2 separate regions of the Homo sapiens genome follow, and region 1 is linked to region 2. Evidence: fine-mapped expression QTL. A gene starts in region 2. The other region holds a variant in brackets. All regions are shown on one strand. Distances are from middle to middle. Region 1 has its middle 46 kb from the start of C11orf87. Region 2 holds the start of C11orf87 (chromosome 11 open reading frame 87).

What was found.
Region 1: its variant is fine-mapped to the expression of C11orf87 in lung (TOPMed, PIP 0.98).

The regions. Positions count from the first base shown.
Region 1 is chr11:109,373,097-109,378,470 of GRCh38, reverse strand. No RefSeq gene overlaps it. Among named protein-coding and RNA genes, the nearest start is that of C11orf87, 46 kb to the left of the region's middle. The variant C/TCAC (reference allele first, on the strand shown) is at 2,214.
Region 2 is chr11:109,418,851-109,424,224 of GRCh38, reverse strand. It overlaps C11orf87 (chromosome 11 open reading frame 87), which reads right to left and starts at 2,035. Exons shown (of 2, transcript NM_207645.4): 1 at 1,962-2,035; 2 at 1-850. The coding sequence starts at 591.

The sequences.
Region 1 (5,374 bases), 46 kb after region 2:
ATTCCTTTGTAAGAATATAATTGAATCTATGTACCCAGATATATTTCCACTTATTTGAACACCATCCAGGCAGTAGTTTTTCATAAATCTTCTCCACCCACCCTTTCCTGCCTAGGTTAAGTGCAGAGTGATGTTGCAAGATTAACTGAGATAGGGGTTGGGGTGAGGGGGTGTTTTTTCATTTTGTAAGAAACCAGTTTAACATCTGGTCAAAACATGCAAGTTAGCACTGACTCTATGTATTATACCACATATTGTGTCAGATTTTATGGATTTATTTCTCCAGCTGTTGGGAGTGCTCCTGAAAGACAGCTCTCAGCTGTTTCTCTCTTTGGGGACTGCCTTGGCCAGAGATATCTGCCTTACCCAAGGTTGTGCCTCTTTACAGGACCATCCTGAACCCAATCATAGTGGGGATATAAAAGGTGCAGGGGCTGCCTGAATAAGAGGCTGATGTGGTGGTCACTGGAGCCTTGGGACCCGTGCAAGAAAAGAGTCACTAGAAGGAAGCACGGTGCCAGGAATTACACTGATTTGTTTTATAATTCTGCATAGGACTGGGCCTGCTGCTGCTGGAAATGGAAATTTCACAAACATTGAACTAATCTCCTTTCCTAACCATATCTTGAAAGGAGTCTTCTATTTGGGCTAAGAGGTGAAAATAAGGAGGACAAAAGGTCAAAGAAGGGCCAGCTATTTAGGGTAGTCAGAGAGAGAACACATGAAACATTTCAGCTAAAATTGGACAGAAAGAAGCAGCAGTTAAAAGTCACTCTGTAGGAAATTAGACCAGAAGGTGGACTTAAAAGCCCCAGCTTTTCCTCTGTGGAGTGTCACCTTTCTGATCCTTTCTGAACAAAAAGGAGAACAGTGAGTTTTCTCTCAGAGATGGCCAGGAACCAGGAGTGGGTGTTGTGGTGTGCGATGTTGCTTCGTGCTCAGGATAAAGGCCTGTGCCCTTGGCCAAGACAAGTGATGGGTCAGGGTGGGAAAGAACTGCTCCACATCCATAGATTTGTATCTCTAATTATTTTTACACTCACTGGGATTTAAACCTTTGCTTGGAAGGATTATTGTGTACCTTATTTTGTTTAGAGTACCTATCTGCTGAGCCAACATTTTGGAACATCAGGTTGAGGGTGTTGACATGAGACAGGGCTGAGAGTGAACACAGAGCCCCAGAAATACAGCCCCTGGAAATAAAATATCACCATGCCCTGTGAGTATCAGTGCCCGGCACAGGAACTGTGCCTTATAAATTGTTGCAGGTCGGGTTCCTGGGGAAGCAGACTCTGAGACAGAGATTAGCATGCAGGATGTTCCTTACAGAGTGCTTTTAACATCAACAGCTGTAAAAGAGAAAGGATGGAAGCTGGCTTGGGCAGATGGGGAAGTTAAGAGAGTTCCCATGTGGAGCTCTGGAGCTGGCATGGTCCTGCAGTTGACATGAGTTGGAAGGATGGGTCCACCTTCTGGTCTAATTTCCTACAGAATGAGTTAACTGCTGCTTCATTCTGGCCAATTTTTAGCTGAAGTGTTTCATATGTTCTCTCTCTGACTACCTTAAATAACTGGCCCTTCTTTGCCCCTTTGTCCTCCTTATTTTCACCTCTTAGCCCAAATAGAAGGCTTCTTTCAGGATCTGGTTAGGAAAGGAGGTCAGTGCAATATATGTGAAACTTATATTTCTAGCAGAAGAAGGTTCAGTCCTATGCAGAATTATAAAATAAATCAGCGTAATCTCTGGCCCTAAGCTCCCTTCTAGTGACTCTTCTCTTGCCCAGGTCCCAAGGCTCTGGTGACCACCACATCAGCACCTTATTCAGGTAGACTCTCACACCCTCTGCACTTTCCTGCCTCTCTTTTGCCCATTAAAATCTTCCTCCTTTTGCCCCATTTACTTGGCCCCTGGTAGGCTCCTGGAGGGCTATTTACAGATGCACTTGACTGGGGTGTGACTAGGTCACATTGTTTTCATATCTTATTCCTCCCTCAGGGCATTTGTGTTTTCATGTCAATTTCCAAGAATGGAGGAACAAGTAGTGTTAGGGTCTCATGAAATCTCATGAAACAAGAAAGGGCCATTTGTGAGCAAGGTAAACTTTTTCCATTCTGTAAATCATGTTGATAGGACCATTTCCCTCACTCATGACTCTGACCCACCTACTCCAACCAACCTGAGCAAGGAGAGAAGGACCTCTTCCCTCCCATCA[C/TCAC]TGCATGGCAGTGCAAACGGGCTAACCAATGCTTCCATTCCCATGCATGGGACAAAGTTACTGAACAGCCAACTCAACCAAGCTAACAAAGTGATGAATTCATTTCATGGAAATAAAATCTGACTGATTTGACTAAGCTGACAGGTTTGTTTTTGTACTATTGGAAAATTAACTTACCTTTTTTCTTTTCCCTTTTGTTTTCTATATTTACTTCTAAAAGACCTACTCAGCATACACTATGAGGCTTAATTAAAATAAGCTCATAACAAATCAGTTGTAGACAATACAAAAGCCTGAAGTTCCAAGTCTTTGCTATTGTGAATAGTGCCACAATAAACATACGTGTGCATGTGTCTTTATAGCAGCATGATTTATAATCCTTTGGGTATATACCCAGTAATGGGATGGCTGGGTCAAATGGTATTGCAGCACACCAACATGGCACATGTATACATATGTAACAAACCTGCATGTTGTGCACATGTACCCTAAAACTTAAAGTATAATAATAATAAAAAAATAAAAATAAAAGCCCGAAGTTTCCCCAGGGTGATAGAGGATTTGGCCTCCCCTGCCACCCCTGCCATTTACACCCTCAAATCTTCCTAAAGCTGTGCTCAGCAAGGGCTCTGGGACATACAAAATCAAAAGAACAATTGAGGAGATGCAGGACTGGGAAAGAGAGAGACAGACATCTTTATCAGTCTCACAGAGAAATGTACTCAGTGAACCAAAATGAACCTGACAGAAATCAAAGGAAGAAGAGTCTGCAGCCAGGATTGTGAAGACCCAACATTGGGGTCCCAGGCAGAATCCACACCCACGCAGTCCCCATGAAAATAGGCTTTGGAAGGATCTTCCCAGGATTGCAGGTCACATGCTAGCTCCCATCCACCCTCAGTCATCTCTAAAAGGACAAACACAAGTTTCCACAAGTCTAATTAATGTGATGTGGCAGCTTTGCCTGCAAAATAAACACCAATCCCTAGAATATCAGTTAGTGAAAGACGCTGGTCACCTTGCTTGGTAATGTTCAAGTTTGTTTTCCACATTAAATCTTTTGGCTTTTCTCAAACAATAATTATAACAAACACACATATAGCTGATCTAATTGGAGCCAGAAGGAAGCAATCAACGTGCTTAATATACTTTCCACCTCTTCATTCCAAAATTGCTTTTTCTCTTTCCCTTTTTTTTTTTTCATTTAGTTCTAATGGTGTATCTATCCAGTGCTCACCATAAGTCTTTTGCCAAAATTTTTCTGGCCATCTCTTGGTTGTTTGTAGTACGTTTCTTAAGAAGGATTCATGAAGCAATTACTGCCTAAATTCTTTCAAAACTATTTCCCTATAATCTGTACATTTGAATCCTAATCACTCCTCTGTGATCCTTTCTGCACTTTTGCTCTTCACCTGCCCCGGTGCAGGTGACTACTATCTGGCCCTAGCCCTGTTGGAGATAAATTCTTTTCACAGCAGCATCAGCTTAAATTTTAACATCTGTACTTTTAGGTTTGGTTTCTTTGGGGAAGCATTGTACAAGTTCTTCCTGAAGTCTGTTGCCATTTGGTGCCCTGAGTACCTTGGCAGTTCTTGCCCAACTCCCCACCACACCCGACACAGCTTCCCTCACAGCTCTGCCTCGTAGATGCTTTTGGCTGCCATTATGCAATATTTGGAGCTTCCAGACTTACGTGTCTCCTGGTTTCACTGAAAATAAAGTTTGTGTATATTACATATTAAATATTTTATTTAATTCTCTTTGGTTTTATTCCCTGAAGAAGAAAGGAATGGAATCTGAGCTAACCTACCATGTTTGTACTGGAAGTCCTGCCAACAGCATTTAAGGAGGCCTGGTAAGAGACCTTTACCCACAAGAGCACTCTGCATTGTATTACAATTACCCAAATCAATAAACTCTTCTCTTGGAAGGTATGAATGTTAGCTGCACAGAGAAAGACAGTCAGTCATTCAGTGGAGCAAAAAGTCAAAGCAAGGGAAAGAGACTTGGAGAGAGAAGTGCTGACTCAAGAGAAAATGAGCTGCCAGAGGCACATTCTATCTCAAAAACCTACTCTAATTCTTTGTAGGGTCTTACCTACTGCAATAAATTCTTCAGCTATCTTGCCTTCTAGAATTATTTCATAAAAACACATCACTGTGGCTCAGAACCTGAATGAGTATATCAAACTCAGCATCCACAGCCCTAATAGTAACTGGATTTTCTTCCTACTTCTCTAAGTAGTTTGTGCTTGCTTCCTTGGTTTCCTCCTCCCGTTTTCTTTAATAGAAGGCAATGGATATTCTATCCTCAGCCCTTGGTAGCCTCTTCAGTTTGCATGTGCTTCAACTTAGGCAAATGACTCAATGCTTGACCCCAGCTCCTGCTTCTCTTCCATCATTTATTTGCAATCCCCACTGCCTACTGCAACTCACCAGTAAGGTCTTCCCAGCAAACCCGACTATCCCCAAAGTTAAATCCATTATTTCCTTACTCAATATCCCAGCCTGACTTTGGTGTCTATTCTGATTATTTTATTTCCCCTAACTCTCAAACCCCACCACAGGCAGGTTATTACTGATAATGACTCTTTGGGGAAGAGATTTATAATATTTACCAATATCTGCACTCCCTCCTCCCTCCTGTGCACATACCTGGATTTTATTTTCCAGCCTCTCCTGCAGTCAGGTGTGACCAAAGGAGTATGAGTGAAAGTAATGTGTGCCTCTACAAAACCTGACGCATATGAAGAAACAAACCATCCATCCACACCTGATCCTTGTCTTCTCCATCTGCCAGCTGAATGGAGAGAAACAAAGAACTCCTGCTGACCCACACTGGACTATGACATGAGCAAGAAGCACACTTTTATTATGTTAAGCCACTAATATTTTGGGATTATTTGTTAGAGCAATGGAATCTATCATGATGAATACATTTTTTAACATTCTCATATCTTTTCTTTTTTTTTGGCTAAAATTGATCCATATTCTGCGTACTTGCTTTTGTCACTGAACATCATGTAAATTTTTCCAAATCTATTAGTATAGAGGCTACTCATTCTTTTTAATAGGGGTGTAATAATCCTATATGTATTGCAGTATATATTTAATATGTTATTATATTCAATAATTATGACAGATGAGTATTTCTTTGTTTTT
Region 2 (5,374 bases):
GGACAGTACCACCGTTTGCAAAAGGCCCTCGCCAGCTGTGTCCAAACAGGAGGAAGCTGCGTGTGCTCCTTGGGGACTGGAGGCTGGCGGTGGAGGCGGAGGAGCACAGGGACCCTGGCACGGGAGGCCAGGGGACGAAGAGGACAACGACGAGGCGTTGGAAGGGGCGCAGAAGGGAGAGTCCCGGGGCTGCCTCTCCAGCCGGGTTTCCTTTGCGTGGGTTGGGGCCTGCCTGCCAGGTCGGGGCAGCCCCCCGCCACCGCGGCTGCCGCTGCAGTGATCCCGCTCATATTCCTCCTGAGCCCTCTGCATCTTCCGCTTCTTCATCCTACGCTTGTGGATGTGGAAAGTGGAGAGGGACAGCACGATGAGGCAGAAGATGAGGGTAACCAGGACAATCAGCACCAGCGTGGAGGAGAAGGACTGGAAGAGCTGCTGTCCCACCTGCGTGATGCAGGTGCCGCTGCCTACTGCGCCTGGGCCGCGGGCACCCGTGTTGCCGCTGCCGCTGGCGTTGGGGGAAGCAAAGGTCCGGTTGAGGAGACACGGCGGCAACGCCAGCCTCAGCTCCTTCGGCGCCCTGGCACTCATTGGCGCGGGGCTGGGAGGGGCCAGGCCCACTAGGCTTCCCCTCTTGGGCACACCGTTCCTACCAGCCAAGAAGAGGACGGAGCCCACGCCACCCAAAACTGCTCCCTGTAGCGGGAGGGGGTGTGCGAGCGAGCCAAGGACTAAGGGAGCAACTGCTGGCAAGCAAGGCGACCAAGGAGTGAGCGGCGCCCGAGAGATCCTCGCCGATACCACCTCGAACACGTCTCCACGCTCCCCTTTCCTTTGCAGAGGCACCAGGCTGCAAAGACACAAAGCTTAGTTAGAATCTCGGCCGCTGCCCAGGGGAGTGCTGTCGGGAAAGATCAACCACCACCGCAAAGCGGCCCTCTGGGCACACTGCCTGAGCTGGGCGCTGCCTGTATTTTCGGTCAGCGGACCCCAGCCTGCCGGCCCGTGGCCGTGCACCAGAGCCACCAGCAGCCTGCTCATGCCACTCGACAGGATGGGGTCTGCGCCGGCACCGCGGAGGTGCAGATTACTCAGCAGATAAGGCAGCCTCCCTTCCGCCCTTCACAACTTTATAATTGCAACAGACACGCAGCCGCTTTGGTTGAAGTCCCTACTTCCCAGAGCGCCGGCTCTCCTCTTTTCTGCGCCCTCTCGGTTGATGTCTTCGCCTGGATCCTACCCTTCCCAGCACCCACTCCGGGCCGCCGCGCGGGCTCCGGGTACGCAGTCCTCCCTTCCTTTCCCTCCCCGTCCAGACTCGCCCTCCCTGGACAGCGTCAGATCCCTTGGGTCCCATTCCCAGGGGGATACCCCTGGCACCACATCCCACTCTGCCTCTGTCCGCGACCGCGGCTGACGCGCAGGAACGCGCTCCATCTCTTCTCCAGCCTTCTTCCCTGGTATTCTCCCCTCTCCAAAAAAAAAAAAAAAAAAAAAAAAAAGCAGCTGAAGCATCTTTCTCAGCTGACACATTCCCACAAACGGCCCCCTCCTCCCCATTTCCCTGTGCCCCCAACTTGGCAGTAGCCTGCTTCTTTCTAGAGGAGCTGGAATGGAAAGGGGAGGGTTCCCGCCTGCAAAGTTTGGGGAACGGGACCTTCTTTCTGTCCTTCCCAGACCCAGCCCAAAGGCCCCGAGGCTTTTCCGGCATACTGGAGCCGGTAGACCCGCAGCGCACAGGAGAGCCTCCTTGCTGCTCCCAAGAGGCAGCTGCAAACTGTTGCACTGCGGAGTAGCGAGGTAGCGCGCAAGCAAGCCAGGGCAGGGGCCGGGGGCAGGGGCGGGGGCTGGAGCTATGGCCAGGGGTGGCTGCTCAGGCCGCGTGAGCTGTCCTCCCCACTCGCACCTGGCCGTCAGGCCACCCGGCCATCAGAAGCCTTTACTCACACCTTGTCTCTTACCTGGACCGCCGGCTGGCTGCAAGGAGGGAGCCCCCGCCGCGCGGCTGCAGTGGCGGCTGCAGAAAGCGTGGAGTGAATGGACCAGAGACCGAGCCGCGCTGCTGCCGCCGCCGCCGCCGCCGCCGCCGCCTTCGCCGCCGCTTCAGGGAGCTGAGCTCGCAGCCTATTGCCAGAGAGGCCGGTGACGTCAGGCAGCCACCGCCAGGGCTCCAAGCCACCCCTCAGGCCCCCACCCACCCTAGTACCCCAACACCTTGTCCTAGCATAGCGAGCCTCTGACACACACTTCCCAGTTCCCTGCCCTTCTCCAGCCCAGGAACTAGGAGGAGCAACCCCTACCTCCACCCTGCAAGCAACCCACCTTTCTCACTCTCTTGCCTAGGAAGAGTTGAATCTTCAGTTCTCCAGCTGTCTGATTTCGTTCTAGAGCTGACCCTTTGGTCCCAGAATCACATTTTTACACTCTGGATAGCCATCTACCATCGGTGCACACATCACCGGTGGTGATGAAAATTTCCCCCACCGCTAATTCCTCTCTGTGCTGCCCGTTTCTGAACATAAACTGCGTGCATTAGAGAGATGGCAGGGACGTTTCTCAACATAAGTGTGACAGAACCCAAAACACAAACCTGAACAAATTAAACAATCCAAATTAGCCATTTTTCTCCACTGGAGTTTCCAAGTTATCTTTCGCTCCATCTGATTCAAGATCCTCCTTCTTGCATCCCTCACATCTTCATCTCCAGGCCCCAGACCCACTCAATGTATTAAACACTCCTTCTATTCTGACAATCTAGACACTCATGAGCACACAAACCCTAGTCTTACAAGGAAGAAATATGAAATTATTCACAGGAAGGCAGAAATGAACTGCCTTATGAAAATTCCAAGTATTTGTAGCTTGCACAAAGTACCCCTTCATTGACCCTAATTCTTGGTAAAGTGTTTGGAGCACAACTTTTAGCAAAATACATAGAACTTCCAGAAAAGAATTCAACAGCCTCCCTAAATCTTGGAAGAGACTAGTTAACTATTGGTTTAGGAGCCTTGGAAAAATATGAATAGTGCATTTGGTTACAGAATCCAGCTTTGAAATGGAGTATGCTCATTTTTCTGTTGGAGAAGCTAGCTGGGAACAGTACCTAAAGACATTGCATGGTCTTTGAAGGCACTCAGGTGTCTTACTAAACGTGCGTTTTCTTCTTTGCTCCCTGTCTTCTTTTCTATCTTTGAGTCTAGCACAGTGCCTGTAGTTTACTTGATAAATTGAATGATACAGTGTATGTTGTTGCTCTTTCCTGCAATGCATCAGAAATGACTGATGCCCAGTTATCTGCTTGTATTTGCTGTATTTGTAAAGAAAGAGGGTCTGATATGTGGAGGAAAGGCTGTCTGTAATCTGGGGGTCCCTTCTTCGGACTCTGTGTTTAGGGTCATACAGTTACTGATGTCTGCCCCCCGCCCCCACCCCAATGCTAGCCTCACCTTCCTGACTGGAATGAGAGCACCAGATGCCTGCAATAGCCACCTGCCACATTTGGACAATTTGACTTTGGTGGGCTTAGGGGATGGAATGGTGAGCCTTTTTATTTATTTATTTATTTTTTACGCTGTGACTAAGTGACACTTTACCATTGATGCCTGACAGGCAATGTCCCATTTTTTCACACTCGCTTTGCTCCTGAAAAGTTGAGTCTAATAAACATTTTGTAAAGCAAATCCAATTTTGGATTCTCCAAAAAGAGATCTGGCTATTTCAAGAGACTCTTTAGCAAAAAATAAAAAATTTTTTAAAAAATGTTATTTTGTAAAGCAAAGAATTTTTATGCAATTAGAATTAACTCTTGGCCAGGCACGGTGGCTCATGCCTGTAATGTCAGCACTTTGGGAGGCTGAGGCAGGTGGATCACCTGAGGTCAGGAGTTAGAGGTCAGCCTGGCCAACATGGTGAAACCCTGTCTCTACTAAAAATAACAAAATAAATAAATAAATAAATAAATAAATAAATAAATAAATAAATAAAAGCCGGGCATGGTGACAGGCACCTGTAATTCCAGCTACTCGGGAGGCTGAGACAGGAGAATGGCTTGAATCTGGGGGACAGAGGTTGCAGTGTGCCAAGATTGTGCCATTGCACTCCAGCCTGGGCAACAAGAGTGAAGCTCCATCTCAAAAAAAAAAAAAAATTAACTCTCAGTCGTCTGTTTTCTAGATTTGAAGGAATTAGTTATTGGGCTTTCCCTATGGGGAATATACCTTTACAACATGTTGTAATGGGATTACAATATGTATGTAATGGGATTCTTCTTGCACACCAAGCTTCTAGGACATGTCAGAAGGCTTCCAATGTTATTCTTTTGTTACAAATGATAGCCATCTGTTATACCAGGAGTGCTAAAGCTGTGTGCATTATTTTATACACCCTATGAAAAGACAAGATCTTAATCTGGAGAACTTATACTCTACAGCAGATAAATGTGATTCACCAGAAAATGGTATTTAACTAGCAATGATTTAGGTAGATTAAAGACATTAGTTTTCAGATCAAAAGCATAGTACCCTTTTTTGTCTTTTCTCTTTCAAGAATAGGCAGTAGGTTCATAATTTATTCTTACCCAGAGGACAAATGTACTAAATACGTAGATTTGGATGTCATTGGGTAGTGTGTTTTAAACCCAAGGAAGAGCAATGACAGCAAATATGGGCACCTCTTGGACTGCAGGAATTGATCCCACTGAGTTGCCACATGATTTTTGGCACATCTGGCTGAATGGCAAGGCTTCTTCCAGACAACACCATTGTTGCCACTATTTTCGCCACCAAACTTCACAAGCCACACTCCCAAGAGTAGAGAACCAAGAAGCTCCTGAGATTCCTATAATCTTCCCTTGTAATGGGAAAGCCCCTCTGGACATAAGCATGTTCCAAATATTTAAGAGCATTTAATATTTGCTTTCAAGTTTAATGAAGAATCTCGATCTAACTTAGATAAAAGTGCCACATGGGCACCTGTACCTAAATCTAAGCAGCATTGAATCAATAATAATAATAGCTATTATCCTTATTTGCAAAACACCTACTATGTACCAGGCTATAGTAAACCCTATATTAGCATTAATCCTCTCTACAACCTCGTAAGGTTATTTTTGCCAAAATACAAAATTATTCATTTACTCATTTGTTCAACAAAAATCTGAGTACCTGCTATAAGAAATGTGAAAAAACTAAAGCTCAGAGTGTTTAAAGACAATGTCTAAGTAACCCACTGAGAAGTATATTACCACATATATTATTGGGCTGAAACACAGGTAAACTGATTCCAAAGTCAGAATTCTTTTTATGACTACTTTTCATGACTAATGGCTTTTCTCTCTTTCCCTTTCTGTTTCTCTCTTTCAAACACACTTACTTAT